Linked DNA regions of Homo sapiens. The protein of the gene in region 1 purifies or fractionates together with the protein of each later gene. This does not show direct contact. Each region holds a gene or a part of one and is shown in the gene's direction. Other genes may lie near its edges.

Evidence for each region.
Region 2: the proteins of TRAPPC6B (region 1) and TRAPPC11 purify together in Homo sapiens (affinity purification with mass spectrometry; 2 studies listed by BioGRID and IntAct, with this or other methods). This does not show direct contact.

The regions. Positions count from the first base shown.
Region 1 is NC_000014.9:39,160,117-39,167,418, reverse strand, and holds part of TRAPPC6B (trafficking protein particle complex subunit 6B), read left to right. Parts: intron 1-7,302. UniProt on the Homo sapiens protein: Component of a transport protein particle (TRAPP) complex that may function in specific stages of inter-organelle traffic.
Region 2 is NC_000004.12:183,711,283-183,714,381, forward strand, and holds the end of TRAPPC11 (trafficking protein particle complex subunit 11), read left to right. Parts: intron 1-1,317; coding exon 1,318-1,362; 3' UTR 1,363-2,307; downstream 2,308-3,099. UniProt on the Homo sapiens protein: Involved in endoplasmic reticulum to Golgi apparatus trafficking at a very early stage.

The DNA.
Region 1 (7,302 bases):
TTTTTTGTTTTTGTTATGGAAAGTTTTTTTAAATGAAATAAAGTTTTATAAATTTTCAGTATAGCAAAATAAACTTCCATAAGACTTGAGGTGAGATAAAAGAAAGAAACAGTGTTCTAACCCTCCAAATCAAGGTTTTTCAAACTATGCTTAAAGAGGAATTCTCTTAAAATGGACTAATTGGGCATTTCTCAATTTATGGTGAATGGATTTTGAAAGGCTAATGGATAAAATGTTCTCAAGTTGAATTTTTCTTAAAAATTTGGTGCCTACTCAAAAGTGCATGAACAAGTAGCAAAATTAAGTAGTAGGGCTTAATTCAAAAGCTCATGTGATCATAGGATTTGAAAGTGTCTGCATATAAGCATATTGTAACTGCCCAGTGGGTTCTTCTTCCCCACTGCCCAGGTAGAGCTGATCTATCAAGACAGGAGAATTGCAATAAGGAGTTTATGTAGAGCTGCTAAATGGGAGAGCAGAGTTTTATTATTGCTCAAATCAGCCTCCCCAAACATGCAGAGTCTAGGGTTTATCAAGGATAGTTTGGTAGGCTGGGGGCTGGGGAATGGGTGCTCCTGGTTGGTTGGGGATGCAGTTACAGAGGTGGGGGCCAGAGGACCAGTTGGAGTCATCCGAAATGCAAAAGTCTGAAAAGACATCTCAAAAGGCCTTTTTTAGGTTCTACAATAGTGATATTATTTACAGGAGTAATTGGGGAAGTTACAAATCTGTGACTTCCAGAATAATGTCTGATTATCATTTAACTACCTACATTTTAGCAGAATTCAGACCCCTCTCATAAGCCTAACCTTATAGTCTTTCATTAGTTTTGCAAAGGTGATTTAGTTTCGGGAAGGGCTATTATCATTCTTGCTTTAAGCTTACACTATAAACTAAATTTCTCCCAAAGTTAGCTTGGGCTGCATCCAGAAATGACCAAGGGCAGCTTGGAGGTTAAAGGCAAGATGGAGTTGATTAGGTGAGATCTCTTTTACAGTCATGATTTTCTTACTGTTACAATCTTTGCAAAGGTGGTTTCAATAGTTCCTGCTAATAAATATGTTCCTAGGTGATTCTACAGAGAGCAGATTATTCCAAAAAGAGCATCATGATTTACAGACACTTATTCTAGCTGAACTTGTTTTTTTGTTTTTTTTTTTTTTAAGAGACAAGTCTCTGGGTTAGTGTGGTGGCTCACACCTGTAAATCCCAGCACTTTGGAAGGCTGAGGTGGGAGAATTACTTGAGCCCAGGAGTTGGAGACCAACCTGGGCAACATAGTGAAACAGTGTCTCTATTTAAATAAAAAAAAAAAGAGGCTGGACACGGTGGCTCAGGCCTGTAATCCTAGCACTTTGGGAGGCCAAGGCAGGCAGGTCACAAGGACAGGAGTTCCAGGCCAGCCTGGCCAACATGGTGAAACTCCGTCTCTACTAAAAATACAAAAAATAGCTGGGTGTGGTGGTGCACGCATGTAGTCCCAGCTACTCGGGAGGCTGAGGCAGAAGAATCACTTGAACCCAGGAGGCGGAGGTTGCATTGAGCCGAGATTGTGTCACTGCACTCCAACCTGGGTGACAGAGCAAGACTCAGTCTCAAAAAAAAACAGAGAGAGAGAGAGAGAGACAATGTCTTGCTCTGTCATGCAGGCTGAAATGCAGTGTTGGGACTTTGGCTCACTGCAGCCTTGACCTCCTGGGCTTAAGTGATCCTCCCACATCAGCCTCTCGAATAGCTAGGGCTATGGGCATGCTACCATGTCCAGCTAATTAAAAAAATTTTTTTTTGTAGAAACAGAGTCTTGCTATGTTGCTCAGGCTGGTCTCAGACTCCTAGTCTCAAGTGACCCTCCTGCCTCAGCCTCCTACGGTGCTGGGATTATAGGCATGAGCACTGCGCCTGGCCTCATCCTAAGCATGTTTGAGAAGTGTGGAGAATAGCAGAAAAACTGAAGATAGTGATACGTACAGTAATAGATGTATGTACAGAATTTTACGACAGCATAGGGCCTAAGGAAGTTTCAGGGAAGCCATCTGGGAGAATGTAATACTTGAGCAGAATTTAAAGAATGTGAATGCCAGGCGCGGTGGCTCACGCTTGTAACCCAGCACTTTGGGAGGCCGAGGCGGGCGGATCACAAGGTCAGGAGATCGAGACCGTCCTGGCTAACATGGTGAAACCCCATCTCTACTAAAAATACAAAAAATTAGCCGGGCGTGGTGGCGGTCGCCTGTAGTCCCAGCTACTCAGGAGGCTGAGGCAGGAGAATGGCGTGAACCTGGGAGGCAGAGCTTGCAGTGAGCCGAGATCACGCCACTACACTCCAGCCTGGGCAACTGAGCGAGACTCCGTCTCAAAAAAAAAAAAAAAAGAATGTGAAGTCTAGGGAATAGCACATAAAAAGGCAGGGAGACAGAAGAGAACATGGCACTCTGGAGTTGCTGCAGAAATTTCAGAGTGGTAAAAGGGAAGGATGTTTGTGAATTTGGTTAACTAGCCAGGAGTCTTTAAGGAAAGGACATACCATGATGCCATGCTAAGGAGTTTGGACTTTATTTTTTGTTTGTTTGTTGGTTTGTTTTGAGACAGGATCTCACTCTGTTGCCCGGTCTAGAGTGCAGTGGCTAGATATTGGCTCACTGAAACCTCTGCCTCCTGCACTCAAGCCATCCTCCTACCTCAGCCTCCCAAGTAGCTGGGACTATAGGTGCATGCCACCATGTTCACCTAATTTTTGTAATTTTTTTAAAGATGAGGTTTCACTATGTTGCCCAGGCTGCCCTCGAACTCCTAAGCTCAAGCAATCCTTGGCCTCCCAATGTACTGGGATTTACAGGCATGAGTCACTACATCAGGCCTGGACTTTATTTTGAAGAAAGGGGAGCAGGTGCTGAAATTCCAGTAGAGAATAACATGATTTTTTTTTTAGACAGAGTTTCACTGTTATTGCCCAGGCTGGAATGCAATGGGGTGACCTTGGCTCACTGCAACCTCCGCCTCCTGGGTTCAAGCAATTCTCCTGCCTCAGCCTCCCGAGTAGCTGGGATTACAGGCATGCGCCACCATGCCCAGCTAATGTTTTATGTTTTTAGTAGAGATGGGGTTTTTCCGTGTCGGTAAAGCTGGTCTCGAACTCCTGACCTCAGGTAATCCGCCTGCCTCGGCCTCCCAAAATGCTAGGAGGCGTGAGCCATCATGCCCGGCCGAGAATAACATGATTTTTTTTAGAAATTTACTTTAGTAGAAGTTACACTACCAGAAATATAGAAGATGACACAAAGTAGGAAAAAATGAGACAAGACCAGTTGGAAAGCTATAGCTAAAAACCAGGAGAGAAATGATAAGGCTTTACTTAAGAAGTAAGGGTAGAGAGAGACGATGAATTTTGAAAAGCTTGTAAAAGATAGGCTCCACCGGACTACAGTGTATGGGGGGTTGGGAGCACAGGGGTGAAGAAAATGGAAGTTTTCTGGTTGGAGTAACTAGGTGAATGGTGGTGCCATTAATGAAGTTAGGAAATTTTGGAGGCAGAGCAGGCTGAAGACATTAATAAAATGAATATCATTTGAATATGCATACTTCGAAGGTCCTGTGGGACCACTAGATGTCTATGCCCAATAAAGTCTGTACTAGAAACGCAGATTTAATAGTCACAGCACCATAAGCAGAGTGCATGGTTCCTTAGAAGAAAGTTTAGCAAATAATAAGCCCTATGGTTTCCTTAGTGGGAGACAAACAGCCTTCAGAATATACAAAAATCCCTGCCTTTTTGGAGCTTTATTTTAGCAGAGAGGGGAACAAGGGGCACATGGGCAATATAAAATAGTAAAATGTATGGTATATTAAATGGTGAAAGAAGTTCTGTGGAGACAGATTAAGCAAGGAAGTGGGACTGAGTATCAAAATCAATTTTTAGAAGGTTTGTTAAAGCTGATTAGCGGCCCCATACCCAGAGTTTCTGATTAAGTAAATTGGGAGTGGGACTAGAGAATTTGCAAGTTCCCATGTGATGCTGATGTTGCTGGTCTTTTTTTTTTTTTTTTTTCTGGTGATGAAGTCTCGCCCTGTCACCCAGACTGGAGTGCAGTGGCATGATCTCGGCTCGCTGCAATCTCTGCCTCCTGGGTTCAAGCGTTTCTCCTGCCTCAGCCTCTTGAGTAGCTGGGACTACAGGTATGTGCCACCATGCCCGGCTAATTTTTTGTATTTTTAGTAGAGATGAGGTTTCACTGTGTTAGCCAGGATGATCTCGATCTCCTGACTTCGTGATCCGCCCACCTCAGCCTTCCAAATGCTGGGATTACAGATGTGAGCCACCACACCCAGCCAACACATTTTTAAAATCACTAGGATAGAGAGTTGCCAAAGGGGTATGATGTTGCACTTTTAAAGAAGATGGTTAAAATGGGCCTAAGATGGTGACATGAGAGTAGACTCAAAGGAAGTGAGGGAGTTGGTTGTGTGACTATCTGGAGGAAGAGTTGATGCAAAAGCCCCTGGAATGTGCCTGGCATGTTTAAGGGACGGGGCAGAGTGCATCTGCAGAAGGTTGAAGCCAGAGAGGTATGGGGTCTGGATTGTAGAGGACAGTCCATCAGTCATCCATAGGATTTGGATGTGTTCAGCATAGAGGTACTATTTCAAGCCTTAAGATTGAATGAGATTGTCAAAGAAAGAGCAAAGCAATCTCATGATTTAAGGCAAAGTGTGATAATCAGCTAAGACACTGAGAACTGGGAAGCCTGGATGATTCTGAGACATTTTGAAGCAAGGAACAATAGAACTTAGAGCAGAAAGCAAATGACTCAGGGAAAAACATCAAAGGTGATACCAGGTTTTATAACCTAGGAGAGAAGAATGATTGAAATTGGGATAAAAGGGAGACGAGGAGTAATTAGGAAGAGGATTTGATTTCTGAAAATCAATTATAAGCAGTAGTTCCCTGTTTATCCTGTTGCCTTGTGCCAGGTGCAGTGGCTCACACCTGTAGTCCCACAGCTTTGGGAGGCCAAGCCAGGAGGATATCTTGAGGTCAGGACTTTGAGACCAGCCTGGGTAACAGAGTGAGATCCCATCTCTTAAAAAAAAAAAAAATAGCCAGGCATGGTGATGTGCCTGTAGTCCTAGCTACTTGGGAGACTGAGGTGGGAGGATTGCTTGAACCCAGGAATTTAAAGCTTCAATGAACCATGATCTCGCCAGTGCACTGCAGCCTGGGCGACAGAGCAAGACTTGTCAAATAAATAAGTAAATAGCAGTTTGGTCTTTTGTTGGAGGAACGTCTATTCTTAGCTTGGACACTGCGGTTTTTCCTTGGGCAGCAGAAGCAATGTGGCGATTGAAGAAGTGACCTAAAACTTTGATGTTAGGTAGAAGCAGATGGCCCAAGCCAAGACAAGTGCTTGTAAATCCACTGGTGGGAGCCCCTCCTCCTAACAGCAGGTTATTAACGCTGCCAGAAAAAAAGTGTCCCCTCTACCGGTCTGGTGAAGAAACCTCATCGCTACGGGCCTGGGACTGTGGCACTTCTAGAGATTCTCGTTACCAGAAATTGACCTAGCTTCTCATCTGGAAGCTGCCTTTCTAGAGGTTGGTGAGAGAGATCACCCAGGATTTCAAAACCAACTTTAGGTTTCAGAGCACAGTCATTGGGGTGCTGCAGGAGGCTAGTGAAGTGTACCTGGAGGCTAGTGAAGTGTACCTGGTGGGTTGGTTTGAAGATGCTAATTTGTGTGCCATCTACGGTAAGAGAGTTGGCTCTCATGCCCAAAGACATCCAGTTGGCTCGCCAGACACGGAGTGAGCGAGCTTAAGTGAAGGCAGATTTTAAGGCATTTTATATGAATTCTGTAAAATACTTTGGTTTAATTTGTGACTTTTTGGGGAGAAATTATTTATAATATGTTGCATTTGTGCTTAAGTCATTCCGTCTTTTGGGATGAATGTGAAAAGTGACTGTTCATAGACCTCAGTGACGTAAGCACTGTTGCTCAGGAGTGACAAGTTGCTAATACGCAGAAGGGATGGGTGACATTTTTTCATTCTCATGACGCATGTTTCTGTAAGTTAATGACTTGTTAGGTAGCTATTAAGGAACTAGAGTTGATAAATAAATGTGTATAGGTTCCTTTTGCAATATAACTGGTTATTACTTGATCCAAGTGTTTAACATTTGGAGCTAAGTCTGACCATACATTACTGTGATAGAATGTGGGCCTTTTCAAGGGTGAAGATACAAGCCTTAACCACAGTATAACTTGCAGTTTCCTTAAACAAACAAAGAAATAAAAACCTAGCATGGAGTACATTATGTGCATTTATAATAGCTATTTTAAATATTGTAGTGTCAACATTCAAAAATTAATTCTTTTACATTCGCAAATGGTGGGGAGTCTTGTCATTAAGGTGTGTATAACTTAGAATCCACTTGGTTTTCTCCTAACTGGACTGCATTTGTTTTCATAGTAGTAAAATGTTATGTGTATTACACCTTGCATAAGTCCTCATTCTACTACGTGTTAACTAACCCTCTAGATGATAATGCAGATGCTAACTGTGGGATTTTATTTATAAGAACTCTAGAATAAATACCAGTTATTCCTACCAACATCGGCTGTTACTAATATTCTGAAGTAGTTAGTGCAACTTTTCATTGTGTTGTGGTTGGTCTCCTAAGTAGGTTGGATTTTTCTCCTCTTCTAAGAGAAAACAATAGTGAAATTATTTTCTTTCTCTTTTCTCTCTGTTTCTGTCTCTTTCTCTCTCTCTTTCTCCCTTCCCTTCCCTTCCCTCCCCTCCCCTCCCCTCTTCTTTTCTTTTCTTTCTCTTCTCTTCTCTTTTCTTTCTTTCATGGGGTCCCTTGCTCAACCTGTTGCCCAGGCTGGAGTGCAATGACATGATCATGGCTCAGTGCAGCCTCAACTTCCTGGACTCAAGCAATCCACCTGCATCAGCCTCCAAAATGGCACATGCTACCATGCCCAGCTATTTTATTTTTACTTTTAGTACAGATGTGGTCTTGCTATGTTGCCCAGGCTGGTCTTGAGCCATTGAGCTCAAGTGATCCTCCTGCTTTGGCCTCCTAAAGTGCTGGGATTACAGGCATGAGCCACCGTGTCTTGAGGGGTTTGTTTCTATTAAAAGACTTGGTGTCAGGGAGGAGCACAAAGCTTTAACCCATTGAACCTCTGACAGTTAAGATGGTGTTGGGTTAGGTTACATCTGGTTACTATCCTGGGAAAATCACTTCTATAGAGATGGCCTTCCAAGTGGTTTTAAAATGTATCTTTCTGTCTGGGCGCG
Region 2 (3,099 bases), on another chromosome or scaffold:
ATTAAATTTGCTTAGTTACACTGCCACATTTCAAGTGCTCAATCGCTAAATGTGACTAGCGACTGCCATACCAGACAGTGACGTCCTAGGCAAGGATGAATCCATACTTTTCTTCCTTTGAATAAAAGGCTTTGGTTTTCTAATTGTATGATGCACTCATTTTTTGCTCTTGCTTGTAAAAGCTACATTTGGCAGGGATTTCACTAGCTTGAGCCATGATTTTGTTTCTAAAATTGAGCAGCTCCCATCAGTACTAAAAAAACAGTCAAGAATCAAGGATCGGGAACCTATTTCACTCACTCCATTCCTGCCGTGAATGTCTGGAAGCTATACTTAGCTATGTTTCTGTATGTATGTACACACACACTGCTATATACATCTGAACAACCACAGCAGCAGCAAACTGAAAGCAGGAGTGCTGTCTTCACTGCCTCGGGAATGCCTCAGAATCTTTCTGCTTAAAGCATAGCAAATCACTTTTGATTGTGAACACTCTTCTGTTTCATTTCCTGATCATCTTTCTCCTGCTTTCCCCACAAAGGTCTGCTATTGTATATCTGTATAATAAAATAAAATTATTTGTAAGAATTGTATTCTTTTAGCTACTAGCTATCCCTCTGGGATGTTGTTAACCTGCCAGAAATTTTACAACTAAAAACAGTTACGATACCTTTTATTCATTCTTAGTCTTGACTTTTCTGACGTGATGTTTTAAATTCTTTCAATCAGTGATCTTAGAGATAGGGCAGTTTTTGTTTTTATCTGCCACTTTTATCCTTGCAGCATGCATTGGAGTTCACTGCAGACACTTTTTCTCAAACAGGAGATTGGGCAACCTTGAGTCCCCAAAAGGAACTTACCTGTCAGCTCAGGCTCTGGACCTGCTTAAAGCTTGAGACACAGGAGGGCCCTGAGCAAGAGAGAGAGAATAAAACTATCAGTTAAGTAGGAATGATAAACAAGGTTCCATTCCACATGTGGGAGATGGCCTGGCAGTAGCTGCTGGAACGCAGGGTTGAGAGAGAAGTACTGACAGAAGAGGATTCTTCGGGTGGAAGTGCAGAGTCAGCTGGTGATGGCTACAGGAGAGGGCAGCTCCCAGCCTGTGCCGTGGCCATCCCCAGGTGCAAGTGAAGAAAGAAAGAGGTGGGGTGAAAGGAGGAGAATCACCATATCACCATTTTTATTTTGATGCTTACACTCATTTATTCTGTTTTTGTAAAACAGTTTCAAGAATTTAAAAATCCTTCCAGTTAATAGAGCTTTTGTTATTATATTATAATTTTGTAAACCCACTTTGTTTTTCCCACTTTAAAGCCACAGGGTCGACTCATGGATGATACCTCTATTGCTGCTGCATGATGTTCAAGACCGGCCCTTGGCTGTTGTTACAGAGATGTTGGGCAGAGCTATGCAGGTGTTTCATTGTGAACTCTAGCTTTGATCATGGTAAAAAGTTAACCTTTTCTATTTTTTAATGGATGTTATACCAACTATTCAGAGGAACTCATACTTCAAAAATATTAGGAAAATCTGTCTTATAGTTTCTCTAATAAATATCTGAAATCTCAGTACGACATGAAAGAATGTCAGACCATTGTTATTGTTGAAAGTCATTTGATGAATGGTAAATTCTATGAAAAGTAAGTGATTTGCATGTATAATATCAGGAAAATTAAGCATCCCAAGTGTGACTGGACAAAGAGAGCAGATGCACCAGTGCCTGTGCCATAAAGTTCCGAATCCCCCATGTGTCTCTTTCAGAGCTGGCCAGACCGGAAATAAATCATTCTCATAAATTCAGTGTGTACTCAGAACACATACACAACAACATAGGGAGTTGTATGACTGATACGGAAAACTTCCAGAAAGTTTTAATCAAAGCAGTTTAATTAAGGTATCAAAAATATCTTTGCTTACTATCAAGAAGTGTCAAATAGGTTCAGCTTGCTGCCAAAATATGGATCATTTATGAAGCAGGTTCATATTTTAGAGGTGTTAATAAAATCCTCATCGGAAAAGATCCAAAGTGCAAGGATTTGATTATAAACATAATTTCCTAGACTGAAAGTTTTTGGAAAAGATGCAGGGTCTGAGTCAGGCCTTCTGGTTATATTGTGCAGTTTCAAAAGAACTATTTAAAACTCTTGAAAACTCATGTAAATAAAAATCATAGGGTGAAAATTGTATTTGTTAAAATACCTTAATAATTTAAAATGACCTGATTTCCTGGAAAATTTTATTATTCAAAAGGTGGAGGCATTGTAAAAAGGAAATAGTGATGTAAATAAACATGTTCTCTTTCAAGTATGCTTGTCTGTCTCTATCTTTTATTTTGAGCTTGTTTGATTTCAGCTTCATGGAACAGCTTTTACTAAGAACACTGTTGCATGAGATGCAATGGCAAGCACAGGATTGAAAATTGGGCTGTGTTCTAGAACTGGCTCTGGTAACATTATGTGAGAGTTGGACAGTGCTATCTTGGGAGGACATGAGCTCCCTGTTGTAACATGGCTTTTCAGGTAGAGGCCATGGAGCATGACTCTAGAGTCCAGCTGTCTAGGATCAAATCCCTCCTCTGCTGCTTTTGTCTGGGTGACGTTGTTCAAGTTCCTTACCCTCTGTGTATCTCAGCGTTCTTGTATATAAGATGTAAATAACACCCATCTTATAGGCTTGTTATGAAGGATGATATAGATTCATACATGAGAAGAGCTTGGAACAGTGCCAGACCCAAAGTTATGTATGAGGGTGCTCAGCCAGTGTCATCTATATTTTTATGGGAAGGCTGAAGAGGGTATTCACTTTTCTACTGGAGAGTTCCATGTTATCAGAATTTGTTGATACATTTTACATAATTTACTACATATATGAGTATACATGTGTATGTAAATACGTGAAACTATAAACAAGTTTCATAGAAGAATGCATTCTGTGTACTCTTACATATTTTGTATCCTACTCTGTTTTGTTAAAAAACATCCCTGGTTATAAACCTGATGAATTGATTTCATGACCCACTAATAGGATGTAAAGTGCGGTTTGAAAAATACTGGACCAAGATCTTGAAGGTGCTGTTGAATTCTAAGATGGTCTGAC